2 separate regions of the Homo sapiens genome follow, and region 2 is linked to region 1. The links come from fine-mapping of genetic effects on gene expression. A gene starts in region 1. The other region holds a variant in brackets. All regions are shown on one strand. Distances are between the middles of the regions. Region 1 holds the start of KIRREL3 (kirre like nephrin family adhesion molecule 3). Region 2 overlaps KIRREL3 (kirre like nephrin family adhesion molecule 3).

Evidence for each region.
Region 2: its variant is fine-mapped to the expression of KIRREL3 in whole blood (TOPMed, PIP above 0.99).

Annotation. Positions count from the first base shown.
Region 1 is chr11:126,998,240-127,003,609 of GRCh38, reverse strand. It overlaps KIRREL3 (kirre like nephrin family adhesion molecule 3), which reads left to right and starts at 2,840. Exons shown (of 17, transcript NM_032531.4): 1 at 2,840-3,155. The coding sequence starts at 3,101. It overlaps KIRREL3-AS3 (KIRREL3 antisense RNA 3), which reads right to left and starts at 700. Exons shown (of 3, transcript NR_040078.1): 1 at 1-700.
Region 2 is chr11:126,463,832-126,469,201 of GRCh38, reverse strand. All of the region lies in intron 5 of KIRREL3 (kirre like nephrin family adhesion molecule 3), which reads left to right. Among named protein-coding and RNA genes, the nearest start is that of KIRREL3-AS1, 77 kb to the left of the region's middle. RefSeq lists enhancers at 1,811-2,358, 2,359-2,908, 3,456-3,515. The variant C/T (reference allele first, on the strand shown) is at 2,352.

The DNA of each region.
Region 1 (5,370 bases):
TTCGGCTGTCTCTGTAGGGCTGCCGCCTCCACCGACTGTCCAGAGACCCCTTCCCCCGCGCGCCGCCCCCGGACGCGAAGGCTTCCAGCAGGGGCGGCGGTCTCTCTCCTCTCCCCTCTTGCAGCGCACTCCGAGGTCTAGGGACTCTCCGCGCTTCTCCATCAGGTGGAGCCGTCGGCTCCTCGCCGCCTCCCTCCTCCTCCCTCCCCCGGAGCGAACCGCGCGCAGGCAGCCTTGCAGCGCCAGGAGGCTAACCGAGCCCCCGGAGGAGGTGAGGCCGCGGGCAGCCGGGCGGAGATGGCGGGGCCGCCGTCGAGGCTGGCGCCAGAGCCCGACCGGCTGTGGGTCCTGCAGGTACTGCTCGCGTTCTCTGCCCCACGTGGTGGCTGCTGAAGATTGCCGTGGGTTTTCCGGCACTCAGGCTTGATACGCCTCCTGGTCCTTTTAGAGGCGGGCAGCTCATCACTTAATCCAAGCTTTTTTTTTTTTCTTTCTTTCTGCGGGAGACCGGAGGTTACAGGGAGGGAGTAGAGGGGAGTGGAGAGGGGAACAGGCCCAGCTGGCTCGTTGGTGGGGGTGAGGGGGATGCCTGGAGCCAGTAAGGGGGCCATGAGGCCAGTGTTGGGGGCCAATGGGAGAGCGAAACAAGATCCTTCCAACCTGGATCTCCCAGGCCCCCCTCTTCTTTCCAAGAGTCAGTGCGAGTGTGGAGTGCAGACACCTGTACGTGTGCCTGATTATTGCGTATTGCACACTTCACTAGCCTTGTGACCCTGGTTTTGTAATAGTTCCCTCGGGGGCTGAATTAAGCAAATCTGGGCCCTGGGCCATTGAGGAATTAGCACTCAAAATTAAACAACAGCTTAAAGGATAAATCTTTAGTTAAAACGTCAAATGTTGCTACCTTTGATAGAGAATCTGCATTCTAGTATTTGTCCTATTCCCTGCAAGAATGGCACGCAGACACCTGAAATTTCTCCCCAACAACCCCATAGGCTTAATGCAAAGCTACTACTAAGGTGACGGCGCTATACATAGAGTTATTTTCAGTCTTACTGTGTTATTTGGCATATGTTATTTAAAATTATTTTTCATCTCCTCTGTGTGTTTTTGATTTGCCTCTTCCATTTATTGCATGATCTGTTACACCAGGCTAATGGACTCAGGCTCAGCTGACACTGCTTCAGTAACTTGTTTGTTAATTTAGCTAATGGGCTGCCTCTTTTGTGTCCTTTTAGTTTCTGTTGCTCAACATTTCTGTTTCTCCTCCCAAAGTTTGCTTACAAATTTCCCTTTGCTGTGTTTAACAGCCTCTAAGGGATGCAGTTAAATAAACTATTAAGTTAAGAATAGAAAAGTCAACAAAGCAGACACCTACTAATTTGTAGATCTTTGGTGTCAACTACCAGATGTCAGCTCCTACTAGCACACTTCTATATGCCCCTGCTTCTTTCTTTCTTGTTCACAAATACCAAGGGATAATTTTTTAAAGTTAACATCCGCATGGAAACTTGGAGTTGGAATGTGCCTTGTAGTGAGCAGAGTCCTCAAAAGATGTGCTACTACTGAAAGAGGAAAGGCTAAGAGTTTCCCAAAAGACCTCCCCAAGGTCCAGGGACTGAAGACAGTAATGACTGATTTTAGAATTGAATGCTAAATGGCACATGTCAGGGGAGCGTCTTTCATTTTCCTCTCCTCTCTCTTTACCTCTCCTTCTCACAGTGCATAACGTTGAATATTTTTCTGTGTTGTTTTGTTATGTCCTTAGAGTTTGCATCTTGTGTGTGTACTCTGCTTGCACACTAGATTATGAGCTTCTGAAGGCATGGTCTGTGCCTATTATTTTGCTTCCCTCCATGGCCTGCTTATACCAAGCATGCCTAAATGTCTATTAAGTAAATAGACCCAGATAAATTCATGTTGATATCCTGGAGGAAACCGAGTTTGATTTGAGTGTGGAGTGTGAATTTCATGACAGGTAAAAGGCTTGAAGATCCTTAGGACGCAGTTGTCTATGACCTTGGCCTCTCCTTTGCAATTGGACTCACAGCACCTCTTGGAGAAAAGACAGGCTCAGAGTGATGGAGCGCTCATTAGAGGAGAGGCTCTGAATGCAAAGACAGGCTGCTCCCCTGTCCTCGTTAGGAAATGCACAAACCAGGATAATGATAATAAATGGGTGTGTGTCACAAGCCTACTTGCCTTCCCTTTAGTTCCTGCATTTTGTCTTCCAGGAGCAGTGCAAAGCAAACTAAGATCCAAATGTTCAGGTTTTATTACCTACCCCCCCCCCCCACCACAACCACCCACCCACCCACAGGAAACTCTCAGAAATGCAAAGCATGCTTATCTCTTCTCCAACTCCGAGCCTCCCGCTGCACACATTGGCCAAGTCCTTCCGAGGGAAAGATGCGCACCCCCCCTTCCTAGTTCCCTTTCAGCCCAGTTTCCAGTTCCTTTGCAAAGGCAGGGCGTGCATGTTTTTGTGCACATGCATGTGGATAGTCATCCTTAACTTCACTGTTAAACAGGACATCGTGTGGACAAAAAGTCACAGCTCCACTCCAAGCTCAAGATGCCTTTTGGTCAATAATGGTGACAAAAGCTGAATTTTTCCCTATTTAGGGAAAAGAAAGAACACAGCCTTTTCCCCCACTGTCCGTTTTGCATAGATCTCCTTTTTCCGAGTGTTTCCTCTTTAATTATGACCTGTCTCCCCTCCCTCTCCCCTCGCCTCAGCTTCAGTGAAAGGAGTCCTTCTGTCACTCGTCACTAGCTCGCTCGCTCACTGTGGGAGGAGCCCGCCTGAGGAAGCCGTGTGCCTGGGATGCCAAGAGCCAGAGAATGGATCTTCTCCGAGTGGGGACATTGCTGACAATCCCGGCTTCCCGAGGCGGCTAAGAACAGGCAGTTTGTGTCGGCTGGCTGCAGATACCCAGAGGCACAAAGAGACCGAAGCCACCCGGAGGGACCCACGGACGGACAGATGGTAGGCGCGAACCCGAGAGGACCGGCGGAGGCTGAGCACCGAGAGCCGCCAAGGAAGAGAAACTAACCACAGCCAAGTTACCCCGCCGGCTTTCCTTCGCTGCGCTAAGGAATGAAACCCTTCCAGCTCGATCTGCTCTTCGTCTGCTTCTTCCTCTTCAGTCAAGGTAGGACCCCTGCGCTGCTGGAGTTGGAAGAAAGTCGGCTGGGTTGTCAGGGCGCGGGAGGCTGTGGGCAGGAACGTGGGCAGGCTTCGGGAACTCGGACTGATGGATGCGTCTCTCGGTGCCGGGCTGAGATGCTCTGGCATTGCCTCTTCGCCTTTGCGAATGCAACAAAATGGTACTGTTTATTTTCCTTTGGAAAGAAGGGGTATGGGAGGGGAGGGGAATGACTTTCTCCTCTCACTTGTCAATATCCAGCTCAAACTCTCCAATGCAAATGAGTTCTTTATGCTTCTGGTATGTTAATTAGGTAGTATCTCTGTGGTTATGCCGCTCTGAACTTCTGGGCACCTCCTCTCCTTCAGACCCAGGCCAGGGAAGGAGACGGCAGGGAGGGAGAGCTTGGTTTAGGTGGATATTTCAGCTTGAATAGGGTTTGACTTGCACAAGTGTATTCAAAAGCGAATGTGTGTGGTTTGCACCGTTGAAAAGGGGGTTGCAATTACAGAATGTATTGTGGGGGGTAATTTGCAGTGGTTGGGAAAAGCTTGTAAAGAGTTTCATTGAACGTCATCGAGTTCCCTAAATTAGGTTGAATTCTGAATCCTACACAGCACTGAATTCAGGGTATAAAATGAAATTTCGCCCGTGGTGCTGATGGTTTCCTTTCTGCAGCCTAGCAGGGGCAGAGAAGCAGGTGGACTCTCCGGAAAGAACTTTGCCACCTCTAGGCTCCTTGCCACTGGGAGCCCTGGGGCTGGTAGTGGTGCAGAAAGGAGAGGGAAATTCGGGAGAGGGAATGTGAGTGCCTAGTTGGCCAAAGGCATCAAAAGTCACCTGTGGAATTGAGTTTGGAGGGGCAAGTACATGGGCTCCTTCCCGCTCTTTTGGAATGCCAATGCACCTCTGCCATCTGAGGCTGCATTTGTGCCAGCCAACACAGCTCTTAGAGGTGCAAGACTCAGAAAAAATCCACAACAGAGCACGTCCATCTGTTGATTAAATGAAGGGTAAAAGTTTTCGAGAAAGCAAAGCACTGCCATGGGTGGCTGGCTTTGCAAGCAAACAGCATGTCTTCTGTTTCTCCCCTGTCGGGGAGAAGCCAAATATAAGCAAAAACCTGGCTTCCTTCTTCTGCTCTTCCACCCGTGCTTGTGGTCACTGCAGACTTTCTCCTTATCTGTGCAGTTCAAACTTTGCTTCTGGTCCTCCTGATGAAACCGAAGGGGCTCCTTCTTCATATTTGTATGTGCATACTAATGCCTGTGTATAATGATAATGTATGTACACACACACACACACACACACTCATGTATTCATATGGTTGTGTGCTTCTCACCAAGGCTCCCTACAGCAGCAGGAAGATAAATTGCCTTCCCCAGAGTTTCAGGCTGAATGAATAAGAACTCTCTCAGAACACTGGTATAGAGACAGGTTCAGTTATATTACCATTTGGTAAGATTACCCTCTTTCTTGGATGTGTATGTGCTTGCTTATGAGCACACACACACACACACACACACACACACACACACACACACTCCCATTCGTCTTTGCTTCTTACCAGTTCACTCAGGAAGTTTTGATATAGAACCCCTGAGAAGGAGGGAATCTTCCAACCAACCCCCCGTAAACACACAAACTCACATTTGCATGGGACCAGTGCATGCTTTAATCAGCCTTTTGTGTAGTTAGAAGCTTGATCCGTGATACTTATGTAGATTGGCATAAGAAGGCTATAGGTGTCTAAGTACCTCCCTGGCCGTCTGAATCATTACAGTGTACATCTTCTGTTGTGCTTATTTCTTTCTTGGTCTGGAGCTGTTTCTTGACTGCTTCATGTGAATCTTTAAATATTTACCTATGGAGGTTAAATGCTCTGTTTTATCTACCCCGAGTCCTGAGAGCGCTAGGAAGAAACCATAACATCATGCAGTTCTTAATGCCTTGTGCTCCTGGAGTGTTCTGAGCTTGGCCATCACTGTCCACCCTACCAAATGGTAGATACCTGGTCCAGAGGCTGGAAAACAGGTCTAAACAAAAATGAGGAGACCCAAGTGGACATGGCTGGTCAGATACCCTGCATCCCTGTACATGGTGTGCTTCTTGAATAGACAGTGTCCGACTATGGGAATCAAGGGGTCCAGCCATCAAGTGGGAAGGTGTTTTATGGACTTCACTGCAATGTGATATGGTTATCTTTTGCCTTGATCTGTGG
Region 2 (5,370 bases), 530 kb after region 1:
GGCAGCCTGAATTTGGATCCGGGCTCTGCCACCTTCCAGCTGCGTGACCTCACCTTGCCGTGCCTCCCTGTCCTTGCCATACAATGGGAACGACAGCAGCACCCACTTTAAGGGGTGCTTGTGAGGAGTTGAATGAGAAACACGCCTGGCACATAGCGAGCTTGCAACAAGCACTGCTGTTGGGATTGTCACCCCCTCACTGGATCCACACGGCTGCAAGGTCCACCCCACTATGGACCTCGCGTTTCCCATATGCAGACATCGGTGTCATAGTTAGGCTGGCCACATGGTTCTGAAGGCCTAGCTCAAACCTGGGATCCGTAACATAACATGGTGATGTCACCCTCTGCCTCAGTTTCCCCAGCTGCAAAATGCAGTGATAATGATCACGGATGTCTGTTAGGGTTGCAGAGTGACTTACAAGAAATTATGCATCAGAAGCACCCTGTCAAGGGCAGGAGTAAGGACTGGATAAATGTGAGCTACTATTATTGGCTCCTGTCCCACAGGGGGAACCCCAGTTCCCTGCCCCAGGGGTCATACAGCTATTTCATAAAACACCAGGCCTGTTCTCAAAGTTTCTGGGTTGCTCACCGACCATTCTCTCTGTGACTCCACCATGGGACCAGTAGGGGAGGGATGAGCCTCAGCCCTGGAGGGCACCAGGCCCCTTCCCCAGGAGGAAGGGCAGGAGAGGAAGCACCCAGTCCCTCCCCCAGCACAGGCTGGCCATGCTTCTCCTTAACAGGCCACTGTCACAGCCTCCAGGGTGCAGGGCGAGCCACACTGCCGGATGGGGCCTTGGGCAGTGCCCACTGCAGGCTCCCAGCGGGTGTCGGCTGCAGAGGCACAGAGCAGGAAAAGGCCCCTCCAAGCTTCTTCCTGGAGACTCAACCCTGGGCTGTCTGGGGACAGTGGGTTCCTTCCCTGTTCCTCATACTTCTGAGGGCCTGGCGCCAGAGTGGAGACCACATTCTTTCTTCTGGAAAGCCCCCAAGTCCACACAGCAGGGGAGGAAGGATGGGTTACGGAAGAGGAGGGGCGAGAGGACAGGCTGAGCCCAGAAAGAACCCTTCCTAAGTGCAGCTTCCTGCCAGGCAGGAGGGTTGCAAGGTCTTAGCACGCACAGTCGTGTCTGTGTCTGCTTGGAGCCCCTTGCCCTCTACCCCTACCACCAGGACCACTGGCCTCGCCTTTTACCACCTTTGCTAAGAGGAGCTCTGGAGACCCCACTCAGGAAAGGGATAAGTGCCCACATGCATAGGGCCCTCACCCTCCACTGGGCACCCCCTCCCTGGTCACTCACCCATCACCCTGCACCTATCTGCCCAGCTTAGGGGCCTAGAGTCTCCACTGGGTGTGGCCGAGGCTCATCCTGGCCTTCTCTGTGAAGGGCACCCCTCTGGCCTCTGGCCTCAAGGCTGGATGCAGGGACTGGGGCAAAAAGCACTGCGCATCCTCCACCTGGCCCACACACCCTTATTCAAGCCAGGTGGCAACCAGCCCATGGGGAGCCCCAAGCAGCTATCAAAAGGGGAAGCAGAGCCATGATTTTTTAAAAAAAAAAAAAAAGGGACCCAGCAGGTGGGGAAGGTGAGTAGCGGGGAGAAGCGAGGCGGCCTTGCTGCCAGGCAATCAGGCTACTCTCGGCCTTTCCAGACGGTTTGCCTGTCATCGGGCACCCCATATTTAGCACCAGTGCTTGGGCCCCCACCCCTTGTCTGCCCTCCAGCCCACCCATTTCCGAGAGCTCAGCCTGGCTCTCCACTGCCCAGAGGAGGCCCTGGGGGCTTTGGAAAGAGCAGAGTGGCCAGCCACTGCCACCCAAGCAGGAAAACCATGGGGTGGGGTACACTGTGTACAACCATACCTGGGAAGACCGGCCTCCCAGGCCGGTGCTGGGGAACTAGAGAAGTGAGTGCCAAATCCCTGCCCTTAGGGAGGGGCAGTGGGGGTGGGTGCACAGCCCTGAGGCGGCACCTGAGCAGGCAGCGTCCAGAGAGAACCTGGGGCCCCGCAGAGTCACGGCAGTCAGTGGACAGAGGCCCATGAACACCCAAAGACAAAAACAGGTACGCGCACATACCCACGGGGGTGTATGCCCTGGCACGCTCGTTCCCGGACACATGCTGCACACACGCCATCTATATGCCTGCCCCTGGCCCATATCTGCACACACAGGAGCTGGGTCCTCGGGGACTCTTGGGAGCCACCATGGCAGTCACATGGGCAACCTGGGCGAGCCGGGGGCTGGCAGCACGTTAGTGCTCACCACACTGGAGGGAGGCCTTGGAGGCGGTGGCTCCCACAGTGAGTGGCCCACCATGAATAACTCACTTCCTTCTGGAGCT[C/T]ACCTGCAAGGCATGAAGCTTTCTGAAGCAGGAGGTGGGAGGTTCAATGCCCATGGTGTGTCCCCAGAGCCAAGCTCAGTGAAGGGAAGCAGGGAAGGGAGGGGCGGAGTGGAGCTGCGACTAGAACCTGCAGATGATAGAATGTTCTCCTGGACAGTACCTTCAAGGCTGCAAAGTCCAGAGGCTCCATTTGCATATGAGAAAAGTGACAATTAGGGGAGATTCATTTCTGAAAAGGAGTGAAGCAAAAGAAACAAGAGAGGCGAGATCAGAAAGGAATGGGGGAAGAGAAACCCGGGGGTGCAGATCCCCCGTGCCCCTCCACATCCCGCCCTGTCCTGCAGGTGCAGGGCTCCCTCCAGCCTTCCCCCTGGGCCCCCCAGCTCTGTCCCACCTTCCTCCCCTCAGTCGTCCTGCAGCAGAGCTGGCAGACCCAGCCTTCCTCCCTGGGATACCCGCTGCACGGGGCCTGGGGTCCCCCGCGAGCTAGGGGCCCAGGAGGTGCTGGGACCTTCCACGGGGACAGAGAGGGTGTTGGTGCTGGGGCACGTGCCTTCCCCTCACCCTCCTTTTGTTTAATGAACACATCTCCCTTTTTCTCTAATTAGGTGGAACAAACAACTTGAACCAGAATTTTTATTTCCCAGAAAAGCACACGCCTGGACCCAGTAAATATGTCATTAATCATCATTCCGAGGCGGAGGAGCACGCTGGGTGCAGGGAGGAGGGGGAGCAGTCAGAGGGCCTAATTAGAGCTGGGTCCCCTCCCTCCCCTGCCACTGGCACCCACCGCCCAGAGCCCATCCGTTGGAAGGGCTCCTGGCAGAGTCAAGCTTATGTAAATGTCCCTTGTTAGCACAACGGAAATGTAAAGAAGAGAAGAAGAATACCAACCTGCTCCTCACCACCTCCCCGCCCCTGCGCGCCCTACCCGAAGTCTTAGTTTCATCCAGGAAATTGTTCTTATTATCACTTGGCTATTTATAGACTCGATGAGGTCTGCTGAAGAGCCCAAGGCAGGGTGGTAAAGCGGTGCCAGCTGCTGCTCCCTCCCTGCCCGGGCTTTGGCTTGGGGTTCAACTTCACTCCTCTGCAGTGGTCCTGCCCCCGGCTTGCTGCATCTGGCCACGTCACTCTCCTCCAGCCCCTCTGCCCAGGGCCGTGGCTGGCACCCTGAGTCCCAGGCCTGCAGCTGCACCGCGTGGCTCTCTAGAATGTCACAGTCCGGCTTTGCCTCCAGCAAGATGTGCTGTTCTATATAGAGGCTCTGGCCCTGTTCTCCTGACGCCACGAGGTTTGCCCCAAGTTGAGAAAAACCTCACTGAATTAAGGACCCAGAATGTGGGGTTCTAGGAGCTTACAGGTTTCTCCCTGTGGCCCTAACTGTTCCCATCTGTCCTGCCAAGAGCACGGTACCCACCGTCCAGCACCCCCGGGGCTGCAGCAGAGGCTGTGGCTCAGGGTTCACCCATTCTTAAGTGCAAATCCTAGCTCCACCCAGCAAGTTCCCGGCTCACTTGGAACACAGGTTTCTCTTTGGCTAATCAAAGATAATGCTGCTGTCTTCCGGGGCCCTCATAAGAATTAGAGACATTGCCATTGTCACTTTATGGGAGGTTTTGAGGGAGGAGTGGTCTGTTCATCTACTCCCTGGCTCCAGTCGGGGGAAACAGGACTGCACCCATAGTGAGGTTCCTTCCTAGTACCTCCTAGTAGCAGAAGCCTTTGCATACTGACCAGACCCCAATCCCAACCTGGAAGTGCACCCCCACACACACTCAGCACACCCTCCCCGGGGTGCACCTGACTTAGTGCGCCCCAAAGTGATGGGGAAGTAGCTGCAAAGAGGAACAGGAGAGGGAAGGAGGTAGCAGCCACAATGGGGAACTAGCTTCGGAATGACATTGTGGCCCAGTAGAGAAAAGCAATGACCTGGGAAGGTGGGAGACCAGCAGTTAAGATGGGTTTGCTTCCTAGGGCTGCCATTACAAAGCACCACAATTCGGTGCATGACACAACAGAAATCAATTATCTCACAGCTGTAGAAGCCAACAAGTCTGGAATCAAGGTGTCAGCAGGGCTGTGCCCCTCCAAAGGCTCCAGGGGAAAATCCTTCCTTGCCTCTTCCAGCTCCTGGCAGCTCCTGGCATTCCTTGGCTTGTGGCAGCATCCCTCCAATCTCTGCCTCCACCTTCACCTGGCCTTCTCTGTTTCTCTCTGTCTTCTCCTCATCCTCCTCTTCTCCTCCTCCTCCTCTTCTCTTTCACTTTCTCTTTATCCTTCTCCTTCTTCTTTTTCTTTTTCTTTTTCTTCTTCTTCTGAGGCAGGGTCTCACTCTGTGGCCCTGGCTGGAGTACAGTGGCACAACCTCAGCTCACTGCAGCCTCAACCTTCCGGGATCAAGTGATCCTCTCACCTTAGCCTCCCAAGTAGCTGGGACTACAGGCACAAGCCACCATGCCTGGCTAATTTTTTTTTAATTTTTTTCTTTTTTTTTTTTTTTTTGGTAGTGACAGGATCTTCCTATGTTGCCCAGGCTGGTCACCAAGTCCTAGGCTCAAGCAATCCTCCCACCTCAGCCTCCCAAAGTGCTGGGATTACAGACATGAGCCTCCACACCCAGCAGACTCTCTTCTCTTCTTCCAAGGACACCAGTCATTGGGTTTAAGGCTCACTCTGAATCCAGTATGACCTCATCTCAAGAGCCTTAACTAATTACTAATTGCTTAACTAAACTGCAAAGACCCTATTCCCAAATAAGGTCATATTCTGAGGTTCCTGGTAGACAAGAATTTGGAGAGGACACCATTCAACCTGCTGTAGGAGACTAGTACTTATTTCAGGACCAACTTGAAATGTGAGTTTGGTCAAGCTCCATAGCCTCTGTCTAGCCCACCTATTTCCTCCCCTATCCAATGGGAGATAATGGTATCTGTCCCACCTATGGTTTGATTGAGACTCTAATGAGATCAGGGAGTGAAACGCTTTGGAAAGTTGAAAGGATTTATATAGGCAAATA